2 separate regions of the Homo sapiens genome follow, and region 1 is linked to region 2. The links come from fine-mapping of genetic effects on gene expression. Tissue or cell type: whole blood. Region 2 holds a variant in brackets; the other region holds the start of a gene. All regions are shown on one strand. Distances are between the middles of the regions. Region 1 holds the start of SUSD3 (sushi domain containing 3). Region 2 overlaps FGD3 (FYVE, RhoGEF and PH domain containing 3).

The links. PIP is the estimated chance that this variant, and not a neighbour inherited with it, causes the effect.
Region 1: it holds the start of SUSD3, and the variant in region 2 is fine-mapped to the expression of SUSD3 in whole blood (TOPMed, PIP above 0.99).

What each region holds. Positions count from the first base shown.
Region 1 is chr9:93,053,356-93,063,319 of GRCh38, forward strand. SUSD3 (sushi domain containing 3) reads left to right here and starts at 5,346. Exons shown (of 5, transcript NM_145006.4): 1 at 5,346-5,475. The coding sequence starts at 5,388. RefSeq lists silencers at 5,061-5,510, 5,521-5,930 and enhancers at 5,441-6,421, 6,422-7,402, 7,471-7,520, 8,911-9,478.
Region 2 is chr9:93,022,248-93,032,211 of GRCh38, forward strand. It overlaps FGD3 (FYVE, RhoGEF and PH domain containing 3), which reads left to right. Exons shown (of 18, transcript NM_001083536.2): 14 at 80-142; 15 at 7,627-7,749. Among named protein-coding and RNA genes, the nearest start is that of SUSD3, 31 kb to the right of the region's middle. RefSeq lists enhancers at 1-523, 2,087-2,879, 2,880-3,671, 6,778-7,279, 7,280-7,779. The variant G/A (reference allele first, on the strand shown) is at 5,261.

The DNA of each region.
Region 1 (9,964 bases), 31 kb after region 2:
TTCTCCAGTGACCAGGCACTTGGCGGCCCACGCTGCTCGCTACGCAGGTGCCGGGCATCAAAGAAGCTTAACTGGCTCTTCAGCATTAAGCCTCGGGCTGCCCTTGACCCACCTGTGCACCCCCTGACCTGCCAGCTTAACTGGGAACAGCTCCAGGCCAATGAAAGCACAACCCCCCACCTGAAATCCTATGCTTGGTTGTAACTCCTTAGAGCATGGTAATGCCGTGTAATCCTAGCAGCCGAGGACCCAGGTCAGTCCACATCTTTCCCGACAAGTGAACATCAGAATGGCCGTGGGAAATTTTGCAATAGTTTACATTTACAAAGCATTTAAAATCCTTGTTTCTTATCAGAGAATAGATACATGCTCATTGTGGAAAATTCAGAAAGTACAAAAAGAGTTGAGGGGTGGGAAAAAAGATGACCTGCTATCTGCCAGCCCAGTGGTGGCCAGGTAAAGGCCTTGGTGTGCAGGATGAGCATGGGGGGAGCAGCCCCTGGCCAGAGTTTGTCCCTCCTAGGCCCAGCTGTATCCCAGCTTCTAAACTGGCCTGGCATGCAGTAGGTGTTTGGTAGTAGCTGTTCCATGAATCTGTCATTCCTTCTGCCCTCTGGGCGCCTTGCTTTGTGTCTCTGCATCACCATTTCTGAACCTGAGGGCGGCAGCTCGATGTCATGTCACCCAGGCTGACTGATCTGCTTGTGCAGGCTGCAGCCAGGTAGGACAGTCTGGTGGTCACAGCTCAGGCCCCAGCAGGGGAGTACCCCCGGGGAGGGGCCTTTGTCGCTCTGCACAGTGGGGACAGGGCTCTTGCCTTGCTTTAGGAGGATAAGTGGTGGGTGTTGAGGGCTCCAGATGGCCCAGCAGAAAACATTTTTGGGAAAATTGTTTTCTCTGCAAACATCTGGCCTGCTAGAGCTTCAAGGTCAGGTTACTTTTTTTTTTTCTTTTTTTGCTTTTAGTTTTTAAAAGGTAATACAGTTTTTAAAAAGAGAGGACACCCATGAGGCCACCAATGCTTCCCTGACTCTTACCTTTTGCAAAAGAACTTTCTGGACGTGGTCTATTGTGAGAGGTTTTCAGAACAAAAATCTCATTTTTCTATTGAGTAAAAACTAAAATCAAGAATAAAGCAAAACAGGCTGGGCGCAGTGGCTCACACTTGTAATCCCAGCACTTTGAGAGGCCAGGGAGGGTGCATCACCTGAGGTCAGGAGCTCAAGACCACTCTGACCAACATGGTGAAACCCTGTTTCTACTAAAAATACAAAAATTAACTGGGCGTGGTGGTGCATGCCTGTAATCCCAGCTACTTGGAAGTCTGAGGCAGGAGAATTGCATGTACCCAGGAGGTGGAGGTTGCAGTGAGCTGAACTCATGCCACTGCAATCCAGCCTGGGTGACAGAGCAAGACTTTGTCAAAAAAAAAAAAAAAAGGCAAAACAAACTGTTTTAGATTTCCACAATTATTATCTAATTTTAGAAAAACTCACCAAGCCAAGAACTCTGCCACCACCAGACTTCTGCATGGGTCCCCTCCCAGGCCACCATGGCCCATGGGTGCTGAGTCAGGCAAATCAAGGGTTGAGGAAGGCTTCCTGGGGGTGGCAACACCTCAGCTAAGGTCTGAGGAAAGAGGAAACTCCCAAGCCAGACCCTCACCTTCCTCTGGAAACCTCTGGCAGCGCACAAGACCCCCATGTTACAGAGTGGAACACTGAGCCCCAGGGCTGGCAGGCCTCCCCTGCCTCCCAGGTTCCATCCAACAAGTGTCCACTGACAGTGCACTGTGTGCTCCCAGTTGCAAATGGAGCTGGGAAGAGGCTGTGGCTTTGGTCAGTTCCTCAGGCTGTGCCTGACTCTGCTTCCTTCTCCCGGCCTGCCTCACCAGCAGCCAGCAGCCCATCCGTTCCTCCTAGCCTCCTCCCCTGCCTCCTCCAGCAGGGAAGCCCATATGTTTTGCGTTTTTTTTTTTTTTTTTTTTTTTTTTGAGACACAGTTTCCCTTTGTCACCCAGGCTGGAGTGCAGTGGTGCAATCTCAGATCACTGCAACCTCCGCCTCCTAGGTTCAAGCAATTCTCGTGCCTCGGCCTCCCAAGTAGCTGGGATTACAGGTGTGTCTGACCTCAAGTGATCCTCTCGGCCATATCCGGCCACATGTCCATAGCTCCACACCTGGCCACATGTCCTCTTCATTTCAGAGACGTGACACAGGCTGAGCAGGCCTTAAGGACAGGCAGCACGAAATGGCTCTGACAGGGAGTGCCATCAGGGAGGGCTCCATGGAGAAGGAGGGTGAGGAAGGCAAGGAGACACACCCAAGCAGGCAGAGCCTAAGCACTGCTCCCAGTTTGTGCCTAGACTTGGAGAGTCTGGGAAACCAGGCAACTAGGACAGCTGAGCGGGTGGGCCAAGCTCAAAAGCTGACGGGCCTTCACAGTCCAGCTTAGAGGCCACCACTCCATCCTGAGCACATCACAGTCTCTCACTTGCCTTGAGAGGGTGGCAGGACAATGTCCACCCCTCAGATGAGAACACGAAGACTCAGTGCAAGGGTGCCCACCCCTGCCCCAGGGATCAGGGAAGCCTGTCAGAGAGCCATGGTTCTCACCATGGAAGGGGGCACCCCAGGCGGTTGTCCCTAGTGGGCCAGTGCCGTTCTTTTCACATGCCTCAGTTTCGCCCACGTGCATGGCTAGAATAGCTGGGCTTTCTAGGAGCAAACCATTCCAAGGGCCTGGGAAAAGGTGGACAAGATGGCCCTGATCAGTGTTCAAATAGGTGACAGGCCCACCTCCAGAACCAGCCTCAGATCCCTCCCATAGCTCCTGAAGATGGCCTTTTGGCAGCAAATGGGTGTTCTGAGCCACAGCAAGGCATACAGTTCCCTGTGGAAACGACATGACAGAGGTCCTTAGGCCACCTCCAGGTCCCCTAACAGTACAAATGGAGGCCCAGCGCCACAAGCCTGAATGTCCACAACCCAACCAAGCGACAGACTGCTCAGAAAAACATGCTCTTTCCTCCTTGATCCCACCTGTCAGGGGCTGAACTGTGTCCCCCAAAATCTATATGTTTAAGTCCTAACCCTCAGTACCTCCAAATATGACCTTATTTGGAGACAAGGTCTTTACAGACTCTTCTTTTTTTTTTTTTTTTTCTTGAGATGGTGTCTTGCTCTGTTGCCCAGGCTGGAGTGCAGTGGCACAATCTCAGCTCACCACAACCTCCGCCTCCCGGGTTCAAGTGATTCTCCTGCCTCAGCTTCCCAAGTAACTGGGACTACAGGCACGCGCCACCATGCCCAGCTAATTTTTGTATTTTTAGTAGAGACAGGGTTTCACCATGTTGGCCAGGCTGGTCGCAAACTCCTGACCTTATGATCCACCTGCCTCTGCCTCCCAATGTGCTGGGATTACAGGCGTGAGCCACTGAGCCTGGCCGGTCTTTACAGACTCTTTATAGGGTCTTAAGTTAAGATGAGGACATTACGGTGGGCTCTAATCTAATATGACTGGTGTCCTTAGAAGAGAGATTTGAACACAGAGAGACACAGGGAGAGCACCATGTGTAGACAGGAGTTAAGTTGCCACCGGCCAAGGAACTGCCAGAAGCTGGATGATACAAGGAAGGCTGTTCTCCTGGAGTTTTTGGAGGGACTGCAGGCCTGCCGACACCCTGATCTCAGACTTCTGGCCTCCTGAACCATAAGACAATAAATTTCTGTTGTTCTCAGGCACCCAGTCTGGGGTACTATGTTACACAGCTCTAGGAAACACACTTCCTAAATGGCCAGGTGTTTAGCATTTGAAGGCTCCTGAAGGCCTGGGTCACAGCGTGGTGGCTTAGGGAGCTGCAGGCAGCCTGGTGTTTTCCATCCCCACCTAGCTCCACCCAGCTATTGGAGGGCTGCCCCAGACCTCCCTCCCAGCCCTGTCCATGCACCTACAGGCAGTGGCCTTCTGCCTGGTGGTGCATGGTGGGCAAAACCAGGGAAGGGACCACACAGGCCTGAGAGGTGGGCTAGGGGCCACTTGGCAAGACATTCTGGGGTCCCAGAGTGTGGTCTGGAGTGGGCACTGCTGATGGCCCTGCCCTTCCCGACATGGCAGAAAGAATACACATGCTTGATTTTGAATAAAGGAGATTGAAGTAAGCCATCGTGTGTGACCCACAAGTCCAAGTGGGAAGAACATATCAGGGGTGACGCCAACCCTGATGGCGAAAGGGGGAGGGCCCCTCACGTTTCACACTGAACCTCAGCTTTGGAGGGCTCGGAAAGCAGAGACGGGGAGGGGCTGCCCTGCTGGAACCCTGCTTCATGGTCCACCTGAACATCCACACTCTTCACGGTCACCTGCCAGGCACTCTAGAGCCAGCCTGGCCCACCTGGGCCACCTTCTGCGCTCCTGGAGGCATGCCTAAGCCAGCCGCACTGGGCTTCTGCTGCCACACATTGCCAAACCAGGGCCTTTGCACCTGCTGTTCCCTCTGCCAGGATTGCCTTTGCCAGCTCCACAGGAATAGGCATGGCTCAGGTGGTCTCCCACAAGCAGCCCAAGATCCAGGATGTCTGAGGCCTGACACCACACCCAACCCTTTGGTGGCTGCCTGGGCAGGGGGCTAAGCCTGGGTTGGGTGGGGTCAGAGGGAGAGAAAGAGCCCGGATCACAGCTCTGGGCCTGCTGCAAGTGGAGCTGGGTGGGAAGGGGAAGCCAGGAGAAGGGAGGCCTCCAGGTGTGGTGGGCCCTGCAGACAGACCCCAGGGCTTTCCATCCTGTTTCCCCCAGCCGGGGGCCCCTCAGTGAGAACCGAAGACAACAAGGGCACCCAGACCTCAGTGTGCCTCAGACGGCCTGGCCCAGTGAGAGACAGGGAAAGAAGGCTGGGTCCACACAGGACTCTGGGGGTGAGTGGGTTACGGGAGGGGCGGGCCGGGGAGGCGTTTTGCTGTTTGCCCTTTGGTACCGGCCGAATCCGGCACCCTGAGAAGGCAAAATCCTGCTCAAAAAATAAAAACACAGAAGCACATGGAAAAACCACACTAGGAGTGAAGGTGAGAACAGGAAGGGATGGGGGAAGGGTGTTGGGCAGAGGTAGCCACGCGTGCAACGCCCCGGAGTAGCAACACTTTCCGCTCAGCCGGCTGCCTTGGCCCGCTGGGTATTTGGTCTCCCCAAGGGCCCCCGCCCACAGCCCCCGGCCGGACCTCGGCCCCAGTCCAACGTGTGGGCGTGGTCTGTAAGTTGCATGGAACCGCCCCTGGGCGGGCGTGGAGGGCGGGGCCTCCCCGCCCCTCACCCAGGCCCAGGCCCAGGCCCCGCCCCCACAAGCCGGGCTCACTCCCCTGGCAGACCCCGCCAAGCGCCTCGGAGCGCGCAGGATGCGCTGGGCGGCCGCCACCCTCCGTGGCAAGGCGAGGCCCCGGGGGCGGGCCGGGGTCACCACGCCTGCCCCAGGGAACCGCACAGGTGAGGGCTGGGGCCGAGTGGCCGCGTGCGGGGCTCTGCGCCCATTTCACAGACGGGAAAGCCGAGGGGAGGGGGTCGCGGGGCCGCACAGCCGTGGGTGGGGGCCACAGCAACGATCTGCCCCGAGGACGAACCTCCTCGACCCTCCGCCGGCCCAGCAGGCGCCCTAGCGGAGCCGAAGCCTGGCAGCGAGCAGTTCGAAACCAGGCGGCTGCACGCAGCAGCCCGCGCGCCCGTTCCCGAGTGGCCGCAGCGCCTTGGTCCCGGGCGTCTGCGGACAGCGCGGCCGGCCAAGCCTCTCCACGCCGCAGGCTCCGGGCCCCTCCGCGCCCCTCCCGGGGAAGTCGAAACCGGCCTCACCTGGCGGGCGGGTGGCGCGGGGGCGGGAGGGGGGAGCCGGGAGCCCTCTCTGCGCCTGAGGGAGGTGTCATCTTCACGATTCCTTGGTGACCAGCGCAGCTCCACTTTACAGATGGAGAAACTGAGCCTGCGAGAGGGGAGTGGCTGTCCGAGGTCACCCTGTAGCCAGGCTTGGGATCGCCTCGGCTGTCTCGGAGGAGGCTCAGAGGCCTTTGGAAGGAAGAGAAGCTGCTTTTTATTTTACTTTTAAGTGTTTGAATTCAAGAATGTGCTTAAAGAGTTGTCTGCTCCCGTGCCCAAGGCTCCGGGGTTCGAATGCTGGCCTTGCTCCTTGAATGATTCTAAAGTCTAACCCTTTTAGAAACGGAACCAAACCGGAACTCTGGGTCTCAGATATCCCAAAAGCTTACTTCCGCGGCCACTGCCCACGAACGTTAGGCCTGAGGGTTCTGGGCGTCTCAGGCGTTGCGGGGCTAAGGCTCTGCGCAGGAGGAAGCTGAGGCCCGGAGTGGGGTGGGCTGGACCAGGTCACACTGTCAGCCTGCAGCCCCAGGGAACTGGCAGGAAGGTGGCAGGAGAATGGCTTCCTCTCACAGTTGGGGAAACTGCGGCTCAGGGAGCTAATTCACCGAGCAGAGGTCCGCAGCTCAGCAAAGTGGGCGCTGAGACTTGTTCCTGGCGCTGGTGGATTTGGTTTATTTAGTTTGACTCTGGCAGCCTAATGTCCAGAGTCCCTAATTTGGTGTTGGGGTGATGAGCACTTTTGCTCCTGTGTTTGAGCAAGGCCTGCCCAGGGCCTGGTACTACCTGAGGAGCCCCTTCTACTGGCACAACAGCCTGGGGGCGTGGGTGCCAGTGCCCTTTGGATAGCCTTGACTTGCCCAAGGTCAGCCCAAGGCCAGGGAGTATCTGGAGGCTCTGGCATATTTGCATACAAAAGGCTGTTTGCCTTGGAATTTGTGCTGGGAATGGAGCTTAGTCTGGCACCCTGTGCTCTTGTTCATCCTGCCTGGCCCTGGCTCTGCCTCTGACCACCATGACCACTTCCCAGGCACTGGCCCCCTTGTTGGAGTTTTGGGTTAGGATCCCCCCTGTGACCTGGGGTGAGTCGCTGTACCTCTGTGCCTCAGTTTCCCCATGTGCCCCAGTTTCCCCACTGTATACCTGCCCCCAAGCTTGTGGACAGGCCCAGTGGAGCCCAGGGAGGGTACTTGTTCTGGTGCAGGGATGATGCCATCATCTGGACTCCATCACTCCCCTGCCATGTGACCTCAGTTTCTTGCTCTGTGAAATGTGCTGTGAAGTTAGAGGCTGGGGGGTTGGGAGCCTTTGGAGAGGATTTGACACTAAAACACCACTGACCAGGAGTGGTGGCTCATGCCTCTAATCCCACACTTTGGGAGGCTGAGGTGGGCGGATTGCTTGAGTCCAGGAGCTCGAAACCAACCTGGGTAACATAGCAAGACCCCGTATCTACAAAAAATGCAAAAAAAAAATTAGCTGAGCATGGTGGCATGCGCCTGTAGTCCCAGCTATTCGGGAGGCTGAAAGGTGGAAGGATTGCTTTCGTCCAGAGTTCGAGGCTACAGTGAGCTGTGATCACCTCACTGCACTCCACCCTGGGCAACAGAGCGAGATTCTGTCTCAAAACAAAACAAAAACCAAAAACATAGCACGGGGATGTGTGTTTTTCCCACCATCTTTAAAATGGGGCCATTACCACTGGTTTTCCTAGAGTAGATATGAAGAGCACAGTAGTGTGGACAGACTGATCTTCCTGAGAGGCAGGAAGTGGTCTTCCCTCATCTCCCATGAGCGCCCTGGGAGAAGGGCAGGGCGCGGGGGAGACTAGCTCAGAGTAGGAGTTTATCATGTTTGTTGTATGACTGGCCCCTGGCCCTGCTCCCAGGTCAGCCCCAGCACTCCCTGATCTGGGAGATTGTCCAGGAAAGCAGGGTTCCAGTGGCTGTAGGTAACCCCCCTGGCATCCGTGGAAGGGCCTTGGAGGAAGGGCCTGGAGAGGGGGTAGCAGGAGGCATGCTCTGCTGGTGCCTTCTTGGCTTCACCCCTGAACTCCTGCCCCAGAACTGGACTGTGTCCATTTTACAGAGGAGAAACTGAGACCCCGTGAATGCATGTGTAAATCAAAGCAAGGCAGACACACCCTGTGATGCCTGGCTATGGCCTCCTGCCACCCATTGGCATCGAAAGAGCTGCTGGTAGAAGGCATAGGTTCCCGGACCCTCGGTTTTCCACCAGGGATGTGGGAGTACATGTTCCTCATTTGGAATTAGCCCAGCTCTTTTATGGAGGATTGTGTGCTTTCCACATCCTGAGGCCACCCTGCTGCTCAGCCTGGAGATGGAAGGCAGAAGTGGCTCTGAAGCCTGTGCTCACCCTCCATGTGGAGATGGGCTCAGAGAGGGCAAGTGACTTACCTGAAGACACACAGCCAGGGCTGTGGGACACCCACATGTAGTGTTGGGGCCAGGCCTGTCCCCACTGCCAGGGTCTTGGGGGTCCTGTTCTCAAAGCACCTCTGTGTGCAAAAGTCACCCCCTTTAAACTCTGAGAAATTCCTCCTGAAGGTTCCTGTTTCACATTTGGGGGAACTGAGACCCAGATTGAGGTCACACAGGGACTCACTGGCAGGTGGGGATCGAGTCTAGGTGAGACTGGGTTCAGCAGCCTGCCTCTGTCACTCTCTCCCACAGCCTCAGCCAGCATAAAAGGGAACATAGTTACTTAATCCCACAGCAGGCGAGGTCAGGTTATAGGGGCTGTGTGGCGAATCCCAGGAGGGAGGATGGAGGGGCCGACCTGAGGTCCAAGGTTCCAGATAAAAGATTAACAAGTACGGATTGTTCTCAGACGCCCGGCTGGCCTCACAGGCTGGGAGGATGAGAATCCACCCGGTCAGGCTTGGCCCCCTCCGTACATAAGGCCAGGGAGGGAGGAAGCGCAGCTGCAGCAGGTGGCCAGGCAGAGGCGCAGGCGCGGCATGTGGGCTGAGGGCCGCTCAGGCATCACACAGGTGTGGCCCTGAGGTACCCATTGGTCCTCTCCACCTGCCCCTGAGCCGTGGGAGGGCCAGGCAGGGCCTCGTGTGTTTTTATTTTGTATCTTGTTTGCATCAAATCCGTTTTCTGTTGTTTTTCCCTCTTCTTTAAGATTTACATGCAAAGGGATCTAAAGGGTGCCAGGTAAGAAATGCCCCAGCACTAGGCTGGCAGACCAAGGGCAGCCACAACCATGGGCTGGGGAACAGCAGGTGGGTAGGATGGGGCTGGAGGGCAGGACGGATCCAGAGAGGCAAGGCCTCTGCCTCCAGCTTTAGGGAACAGACATCCTCAAAGACAGCTGGGGTGTGGGGTCCTCTGCAGGGGTGAGGCACAGGAGGGCCATCTGCAGGCAGCTGGGAGTTCATGAGTATTTGAAGCAGGGGAGGGGACAGGGGACAGATGGGATCTGCCTCTCATGCATCAGGCATGGGGAGGGGCTCAGGAGGTCAGTGAGGGGTGGCCCTGGGTCCCCTGGGAGTCCGGGAGTCTCTGTGTGAGCAGGACTTGGCTGTGCGGTGGTTAGAGACAAGGGTGATCCACCAGCTCCATCCTCATGCCTTGGTGATTTCTTGGAATGTCCCTGGGAGTTGGGTGCAGGTAGAGACTTTGTAGACCATAGCTCCTGGCACTGTGCTGCCTGCCTGCCCCATCCTGGCTGTGAGTTCGCTGTGAATCCTACGGAATCCTGGCTGTGAGTTCGCTGTGAATCCTATGGAAAGGGCTACCCCAAGGGGACAGGAGTCCAGCCTCCTACTCTTGGCACTGCCATCATGCAGCCAGGGGCCTTGGGCAGGTTTGTGGGCCTCAGTTTCCTCATCTGGAAAATGGAGCCAGCCCAGAGAAAGTGTTTCCTGGCCTCCCAGGCTCAGGAAAGGAGTACAGGAGACCCCACTGGGGCCTGGAGGGTTGAAGGTCCCCTGTATGCTGCAGACCTTGGGGATCAAGGGCTAAGGGCTGAAGTTTCCCTGTGTTCCATGGACCTTGGGGATTGAGGCCCAGGGCCCCAGTAGGGCTCATGTCCTGGGCTGCTCAAGCCCTGACCTAGGGAGTGATCCTGTGCACCAGAT
Region 2 (9,964 bases):
TTCAGGAACTGTCCCCCCGCTGCACAGTGGCTGCGTGGCCCTGGAATCTCCTCTCACTCGGCCTCTGTGTCCCTTCTAGATCACGAGCACCAGCCCTGTGGAGCCTGTGGTGACCACCGAAGGCAGTTCGGGTGCAGCAGGGGTAAGTGCCCCATGCTCAGCGGTCAGCAGGGGTGAAAGGCAGAGCAGGGGGTCAGACCAGGATGACCTATAGGGAAGATGGAGAGGGAGGGTCAGACCAGGGCCTCCTGGAGGCGGAGGGCTGAGGGGCCAGTCTGCCCTGCTCACTGTGACTGGGGGCCTGGGTGTGCGGAGGTGAAGCTATGTCTGAGTCCAGGCACTGATGAATTGTGTGGTCACTGCAGGGGACTCTGTAAGGTGGGCACGCAGAGGCCTGTCAGTGTGGGGATGTCCATTACCTGGTTGGAGGTGGTCACACAGCTGGGCACACATGTGAGAATCTTCTGAGCTCCAAGTGAACATTTATGCTCTTAACATGTGTGAATCGTCCCATAAAGCATGTATTAACAGTGCAAGGTCCTTAGGAGGCTCGGTAATGCAGAGGACTGCTTAGTTCTTCACCCCAAGCAGCGGCCAGGGAGGCCTAAGCCTCCCTGCCTCTCCCCGTCTGTGTTCTCGTGTGCCTTATGGCAGCCAGCCCACAAGGGTGCTGCTCCGGCCAGGCAGACTGTGTCCACGCGCCCGCCTGCCAGGGGATAGGGAACTGGGATAAGGCCTGCCTCCCTCCGTTTAATCTGGGAAGTTAAAGAGGATGAGGGCCAAGAGCATCTGTACCTGGAGCCATCATCATTGGTGCCCAGGCCTGGCACTCACCAACGCTGACAGCAACATCACCGTGGAGCACCCCGATGTGGCTGCTGTGCCCAGATGCAGGAGGGTGATTCTCCAGGTGCCTCGCCTCACCCCATGCTGTGCAGGCCCAGGAATGACATGGCCCCAGATGGCTGCCCTAGCCCCATCCAAGACGGGTCTTTCCAGGTGGGCTGGCCGCTGGCTGCCCCCTCCCATGACCTGAGCTTTACCAGGCCCCACCCATCATGATCTGGGCTGGCCGGGCACTGGGAAACCATGAAGAAACTCAGGAGGCCTCGGGAAAGATGTAGTGCTTCAGGGGCACGACGGAGTGTGGAGGCGTGGGGGGCTTGCACATACATCCCAACGGGCAAGAGGAGAGACCCCAGATTCACAAAGCGCAGCCACCTGGCCTCTGCAGAGCAGACAGGCACCCTGCAGGGACATCTTATTAACACTGAAACGAGGAAGTCTGACACGGGGTGGGCAGCTTGGGGGAAAGTGGTGCCCTGGCCTCCTAGGAGAGAATCTCCTCTCACTTGTCTCTTCTTGTGTCTGGCCTCACCCAGCTTCCTGGCCACCCTCCCCTGAGATGCCCTGGGTTCCCCTTGCCCTGCTAGGCCCCAGGGCCTTGACACCTGCTGTTTGCTCTGTCCAAGTCTATGAAGCCCTGTAGCCTGCCCCGGGGGACCCTGATAAAAATGTCTCAATGACAGGAACCCGCCCATCAGCAACTTTTTTTTTTTTTTTTTTTTTTTTTTGAGACGGAGTCGCTCTGTCGCCCAGGCCGGAGTGCGGTGGCACAATCTCAGCTCACTGCAACCTCCACTTCCCAGGTTCAAGTGATCCTCCTGCCTCAGCCTCCCCAGTAGCTGGGACTACAGGCACGTGCAACCATGCCCAGCTAATTTTTTGTATTTTTAGTAGAGACGGGGTTTCACCATGTTGGCCAGGATGGTCTCAATCTCTTGACCTTGTGATCCGCCCGCCTCAGCTGGGATTACAGGCGTGAGCCACCATGCCCAGCCTATGATGGGAATCCGCCCGTCAGCAACTTTTTGTATTGCCAAACAGTAAGTGTGAGGCTGGCTGTGCCCCAGACTCACAGAGCTCTTTAGGCCCTTTTCTGGAGCATTTAGGAAAGTTATGAAAAGCAATGTGTACTCATAGTGTGAGTGCAGCCACAGAAGCTTGAGCTGCCCACAGTGGACACACAATCGCAGGGTCACAGTGGGGACGTGACAGCCCACACCCATGCATATGAGGCACTGCCTGATCAGCCCCACTGCCTGGAATCCCACAGCCAGGGCAGACATCCCTGACAGTTTCCATGGTGATGCCCTGGCACAGAGCACTGCCTCCCACACACACAGCTCACATAAGGTATGAACTTGGCTGGCCTCTGCCTGATGACCCTCCATGTCCAGCCCCGGGCCCTGGGCCAGGCTTATGGAGACATCCGTGGTCACAGTCCTGCCGCAGAGGCATCAAGGCTCAGTGAGAGCCACCTGTCGTTTGTGAATGCGTCTGTCCTTGGTGTGAGCCCATACGACATGGAGAGGCACCTTCAGTGTCTTGGGTAGGCAAGGAAGCAGAAGTGGGTGGAGGCCACGTGCTGAGGGATGCCCTGGGTGGGCAGGACCTGGGCGGGTTGTAGGAACAGCAGGAGCCCAGGCCTGGCTGAGGGGATCCACACAGGGCGTCTGAGTGTGGGACAGGGTCCTGGGGAGTCTAACCCCCGGGTTGGTGCCCTGACAGGAGAATGTTCTAGCTGGAAGAACCTGCAAGGCCATTGTTTAAAATGTTTTAACTTGTGGGAAGACACAGCTTGGAGATGGCCTTGGAGCAGGGCTTTGAGCAAATGCCGCCTCTTGAGCCTCACTTGGCTCTGGGCAGAGAGATCAGAGAAGCTGTCAGGCGCTGCTGGCCACACAGGCAATGCCCCTATTGGCCGCCTGCCTCCGTCACAGGCGAGAAGGTAATTGGGGCTCAGGGCCTCAGTCAGTGTCCGGGCATCTGCTGGACCAGGCTGTGGCCAGCAGACCCGCTGTGCCTCGATGGGTGCGCCCAGCTGGGTGGACAGCACCGCCTGCCCCACTCCCTTTACTTCCCCTGGCCCAGGGTTCAGCTGCCTCAGGTTCTGCAGCAGCCTGGGGAGCCAGGTACTCAGGGTCACAATTCCAGTTCTGGTCTCTTGTCTCTGTCCCTTACCCACACCAAGCCAGAGCTGGGCCCACGACAGACCACCAAACAACCACAGACCTCAGCTCCAGCCCAGGGCCTCCCTACGAACAGTGGATGTGGCCTGGCCTGGCCCTGTGTTCCTCACTGGTGTCTTCCTGTGAGCAAAAACAGCAGAGTTGAGACTAGGGTAGGAGCTGGGACAGCTCAGTGTCTGTGTCAAGCTGCACAGGGTGAATGTGGTGTGATGGAGGTGAGCTCAGTGTGCGTTTTACAAAGCACTCAAAAGCAAGTTCATTCTCTCATCAACAACAGTGATTTTTGCTACAGTATACCAAACTTCAACTTACTTCCTGAGCCCAATTTCTTCAGTGGTATAGTCCCTGTAAGCCCCTTTCCTAGGAGAAGCTACACCCAAGCCAGGAAGTTTTGCAAGGGGCCTTGCAGAATTCAAAGCCTTCCCTGATGGGCAAGCGTGGAGTTGCTCTTAACAGAAACACAAAATGTCAGAATCCAAAAGGTCTCTTAGGGCCTCAGACCCACCATGGGTGACACACGAACCCCTCCAAGGAGCCAGCGAGGCATCTAAGGGCACCCTTGACAGGCCAGTGCCAGGGCCTCTTCTCAGGCACTGCCCCTCCTGGGACGAGGCCACGCCCTGTGTCCACCCTCGGGGCTCCAGGGCAGGGCTGGAGCAGAGGCATCAGGCCTCAGCCTGGCCACCCTCCTGTTGGAATAGCCCCAGGCAGTGCCTGCGCCTCACAGCCTGTGTCCCCTGCTGGGTCATTTCAAGCAGCTGATGAAACTGACTCGGTTTCATCAGGGCCTCTTACTGGGCTCCAATTCTGTGTAACTCAGCTGTGCCCCCCGTTCCTGGATGTGCAGCTCAATTTGCTCAAGAAAAAATGCTGGAGGGGGCAGCCCCGTTGGCCCTTGGTGGAGACCACTTTCTGGGTCAACGCTGGTGTGTTTTGGGCGCTTTGGGGGTGAAGTCACTCGGTCAGATACTGAGGAAGCCACAGTTCTCCATGTTCCTGGAGAGACTTGGGCCCAGCTTTTCTGATATCCCGACATCCACAACGAAAACCTGAGCTCCCTTTTTTGGGTCAACCTGCGTGGTAACTTCATTCACAAAGGGGCGTGTGCATGGCCGAGAGAGCATCCCTCGCTACTCAGGTGGGCCTCTTGCCTCTCAGCTACTGCGTCATGCCTACAAATTCAGCCACACCTTGATGATGGGAGCTGGAGGGTTGGCCTCGACGGGCTGCGGACCTCAGCTCCATGGGAGCTGGTGCAGGGCCAGGACCCACCCCAAGTGCTCAGCTCAGTTCCATAGCTGGGAAGATTTGCCAGATAAAGGAAGCCAGTGGGACTCCCGGCACTGCCTCAGCCCTGAGCCACACTCACTGCTTCCAGAATTGTCCTCTGTCCCTTCACTGGGACCCGGTCCCACTGGTCCTCAGAGGCCAAGCTCTTGCTGTGCACCCAGCCCCGCAGGTACCTGTCCTCCCACATGGTTGTTCTTTGCTCCTTCAGCCCCTGCTGCCCCCTGCCCCATGGGCACGCCCTGTGTTGTTCTCAGCTACCATGCAGTGCTGCCCCTGGGTGCCGTGGCCAGGGTCCCCCTTCCGGGGTCAAGAGCAGGCAGTTCTGGGCTGAGGTGCACATCGGGGCTGCCCTTCCACTAATCACTCCCACTTCCCAGCCTCTCTGGGTGCCCACCTGGAGAAGAGGTTTTTGCCGCCAGGTCAGTGATGCCCATTCCCCACCTAGTGTGCTTGGAGCCCCCACTGTGGTCTTGGGTGTGAGAGAAACTGCAGAGGGAGCCCAGGCCGCCTCACCTGTGTCTTTGGAGCAAGGCCCATTCAACAGAGGTGCCGGGGGCTGCAGCACAGCGAGTGAGAGTCCCTGTCACCCTCAAGCCAGCCCTGCCCTTGGGCTCCTGTGCCAAGCAGGACAGGTGCTGGGGGGACCTGCAGGTGGGCCAATGAACGGGGACCACAAACCAGGCCACACAGCTGGAAGTGCCCGGCCAGAATTTGCACAGAGGCACTGGTGTCAGTTTGTTGGGGCTGCCAGAACAAAATACTACCTGAGGCTGAAGTCTGAGATCAAGGTGTGGGTAGGGTTGGTTTATCCTGAGGCCTCACCTTGGCTTGGAGATGTCAGTTTCCTCCTTGTTTCCACACATGGTCTTCCCTCTGTGTCTCTGTGTCCTCATCTCTTCTTATAAAGACACCAGTAAGATTGAATCAGGGCCCAACCT[G/A]AGACCTCATTTTAACTTAATGTCTCTTTAAAGGCCCTGTCTCCAAATATAGTCACATTCAGAGTTACTGGGAATTATATTTTCAACATACGAATTTGGGGGGACATAGTTCAGCCCATCACAGCCTCCAATGCTTATGCCCAATCTGAGCCACCCCTTTCTTGCTTCTTCACCCCCAACCAGTTCAGTTCATCTTTTTCTTTCTTTCTTTTTTTTTTTTTTTTTTTTTTGAGTTGGGATCTTGCTGTGCTCTCCAGGCTGGAGTGCAATGGTGTGATCACAACTCACTGTAGCCTTGACCTCCCAGGCTCAAGCGATCCTCCTACCTAAGCCCCCCAAATATCTGGGACTACAGGCACGTGCCACCACATCAGCTAATTTTTTGGATTTTTGTTGAGACGGGGTCTCACTATGTCGCCCAGATTGGTCTCGAACTTCTGGCCTCAAGCAACCCTCCCGCCTCAGCCTCCCAAAGTGCTGGAATTACATGTGCGAGCCACTGCGCCTGGGCCTCCTTCTCCTTAAACCTGAAGAGTTTATGTTAAACTTTTTTTAAGCGTATGTTGTTTAGCATTTTCCTAAGGCAGTTTTGGACCCATACAAGTGGGGATAACCGCAATGAGTATCCCTCCCCAGCTCCAGAAACCTCAGCCTGGTGCTGTTCTTATGGCCCCTCAGCCCCTAGCCCCGACACACACACACACACACACGCACACACACACACACACACCCCAATTTTCTGTAATATTTTAAAGCATATCCCAGACCTCTTTTTATTCTGCTCAGCTACAGTAATGGTAAGCTTATTTTAGGTAGTTTTCTTTTAAACAGGAAAAAAAAAAAAAAAGAAAGAAAAACACCTGCAGGCTTCAGTTTCCCTGACTGGAGAGGTTGAGATAAACATTTCTAGTGGCAGTTCCAGCTCTGACATCCTGGGGAACTCGATACATATCTTTGCCTTTTCCTAAAGTCTTCTTAACAGTGGTTTCGGCACCCATAACAAAGTGTCTCAAGGGAGGCACCTCCTCCCCAGAGAGGAAATGCTGGGTGTGGACCAAGCTTCAAAAGCCCAGGAAGTTATTTCATCAAATGATGGGGCCTTTCCAGGGGTTGCAGGCTATTGTAACAGGAAACGGTAATTAGCAACTTGCCAAACGCAGTCGGGGTTTTATGTACTGTGATGAGGCTTACGACCCAGGGACCAGTCACCCATCCCATTTTACAGGTGAGGAAACTGAGGCTCAGAAAGGAGAGGTGAGTCATCCAGGGTTGCAGGGCTGACAGGAGGCAGGAGACTGGGGTCTCTCCACCTGGCACTGTTCATAATCAGACAGGGAAACCAAGGCTGGACTGGGCAGCCCCAGGCTACACCTGCTCCAGCCTCCACACCACCCTCCTCTGTAGGCAGTTCAGGCACAGGAGACAGAGGAGGGTACAGCCCCTGACCCTGGCCTCAGCTCTTCATGGCTTCCTCACATGTCCTCACAGTTTTTTTTTTTTTTTTTTTTTTTTTTTTTTTTTTTTTTTTTTGAGACAGAATCTCGCTCTATAGCCCAGGCTGGGGTGCAATGGCGGGATCTCAGTTCACTGCATCACTGCAACCAACCTCCGCCTCCTGGGTTGAAGCAATTCTCCTGCCTCAGCCTCCCGAGTAGCTGGGATTACAGGCACCCACTACCACTACCATGCCCGGCTATTTTTTGTATATTTTTTAGTAGAGGTGGAGTTTCACCATGTTGGCCAGGCTGGTCTCAAACTCCTGACCTCAAGTGATCTGCCCACCTCAGCCTCCCAAAGTGCTGGGATTACAGGCATGAGCCACTGCGTCCAGCCTCCCCCTAAAATGTTGCCATGCTTGTCTGCACACTCAGGCATGTGGGTGCACACCTATATTCATCCATGTGGCGTGCCTGGAGGGTGTGGCCCGCGGTGCCCAGTATAGAGCAGGCGCATGGCCACACGGCTCCAGTTGCAGACAGGGATGCCCCCGTCCCCAGGGCTGCAGGCCATGGCTGTGCTGCCCACTGCCCACCCTAGTAAGTGCTGTGTTCCTCCAGCTGTGGCTCCTTTCAATAGTTTCTCAGATGCACCAGATAAAGTCATTGGCCAAGTTGTTCCAAACATGAAGATCTTGATCCACTTAAAATCTTTACTCGGTGCCATGGGCACAGGCAGCCGCTGGGAGGTGAGGGAGGGAAGAGAGACGTGGCTGACTTGGCTCTTCACTTCATTCCCTTCTGCATGTTCCACTTTTTGCCTTGAGCCTGTGTGGCTTTTACAGTCACGAGAGCTGCCACTCCACTGCCGTGTGGGGTAGGGTGCACACATGATTCAGAAGCTGATGGCATCTATTTGCCTCCTTATAGCTCGAGCCCAGAAAACTATCCTCTAAGACCAGACGTGACAAGGAGAAGCAGAGCTGTAAGAGCTGTGGTGAGACCTTCAACTCCATCACCAAGAGGAGGCATCACTGCAAGCTGTGTGGGGCGGTGAGTCCCGGGAGAGGGGGACAGGGACAGGAGGCCACCCTGTCCTCTGCTCTGACAGAGCAGCTGAGTCCTCACCAGCAGCACACCAGCCATGCACACCAGCCCTGCACGGAAGGGCTTCCTGATCCTGGCTCATGGATATAGATACCCTTGAGTGCAAAACTGTCCTGTCCGAAGTAGAATCAAATCACTTTTCTCTGGTCAGCTCTGGTGTTCAACAAACACTACTTGTGGTTGAAAAAGTGCTGGATTTGGAACCAGAGAACCCCTAGCTGGGTGACCTTGAGAACAAGGAGATGATAGTCCTCATTCCTTGCAAGGTGTATTGGAGACGGGTGAAGGGTGTGGCTGTGCTGGAAGCTCCTACTGCTGGCCTTTGCCCCAGCGCTCCAGTGGTGCTGAAGGCCTGGTGGGCCCATGTGATGAGGCAATGCCTCCGACTGGCGCCCCAGCTGCACACCATCTCCATTCCCCTCACTCCAAAGCCCTTTCTCCTGAGAATGGAGAAAATTCAATGCTTAATGTTGAATGTAAAAGTATCCCTGAGGAAGGAACTGATCATTTAAGTATCTTTAGGTTAAGAGATTAAAGTTGAATCTGTGTTAGCAACTGGATCTCAGCACAGAATGCTTTGGAGGTGTTTTTCCAAAGGGCACCAGCAACCTGTGCCTGAAGCGGTTGATGTTGCTTGTCATACCTTTGCCACATGGCGGGGGGGCAGCAGGGGGGGGGGAATAAGTAGATGAGTCCTTGGAAGGATGGATGATGGATGGGTGGGTGGGTAGAAGGATGGATGAATGGATGAGTGGTTGGAGAGGTGGGTGTATCAATAGGTAGATGGATGCGTGGATGGATGGATGAGGGGATGGATGGATAGGTGGGTAGTTAGATAAATGGCATATGGAAGTATGAATGGAAGTGGATATATAGGAAGTATAAATGGATGACTGGAGAATTGATGGATGGATGGATGGATGAACAGACGAATAGTTGGATGGCATACGGAAGTATGGGTGGATAGATGAATGGTTGGATGGATGGATGAATGAATGAGTGGATAATGAATGGGTGGATGGATGGATGGATGGGTGGATGAAGGGATGATGGATGGATGGATGATGGATGGATGAATGTATGGTAGAGGATGGATGGGCAGGCAAGTGGGAAATGTGATCTGTGCCTCTTAAAGAACTCTCAGTTTGGGACCCAGTTTGTACTCTAGAATTGGGGGATTTAACTCAAACCTGGTTTCCCCATCAGACCTGAGGAGAGAATCTGTTGCTTTAAGAGCCATCCTCAGAATACATGCCCAGGTCCCTGCTCAGCTCCAGGCTTCAGGCTTTGTGACTACTCAGGATCAGAAGCTGCAGCCTCCATTAATCTTCCTTGGAGTGAGCGTCCTCATGGCCAACCTGGACTTCCCCAGCAGAGGTGGCTCGGTGCCCTCAGTGACATCACTGCATCTCCGTGTCAGCCTGCTGGGGCTTAGCTTGGCTTTCATTGCCTTGGTTTGCCCGGTATTCCTGCTTCCTCACACAAGAAGTGATAGAGAAAAGAGAAATTCCAAAAATAAAATGCTCATAAAAGGAGGACTCCAGAAGAGGGTGCCTTCCATCTACTTGAAAAGAGCAATCTCCCCTCTGCTGTGGCTCCTGAGACCTGCGATATGAGCTCAGTGTTTGAGTGCCATGGTCCCTTAGCAGCCAGTGCCTGCAGGTTTAGGTTCAAACTAGAATTTCCCAAGGTTTGAACAAGGACCTCCAAGTCCTCTGCAACATTCAGTACGTGGGGCAGGATGGAACAGGAGAAGCAGATGCAGAAGTGGGTGTGGGTGGCCCTGAGACAGCAGGAGCCTCTTTGTGCTGGGAAAAGGATCCAGCAGAGGGAGGGAGACCGAGGCAGAGAGAGACAGGACCACCGATGGGATGCAGCTGCAGGGGCCAGAGGAGGGGGCACAAAGGGGCCTGCTGGGAGTGTCCAGGGTAGGAAAAGCTCTGGAAAAGTCACTGAGGAGCACTCCTTGGCTAAATTCCCATGCTCCACCCATGCATCTGAATCACATTCCACTGTACAGACAGACCATGACAACTTCATCCATTCATCTGCCGATGGACACGGGTTGCTTCCAGCTTTTGGCTATTGTGAATAACGCTGCTATGGACATGAATGTACAAACATCCCTTCAGATCCTCCTTTCAGTTCTTGTGGGTACATA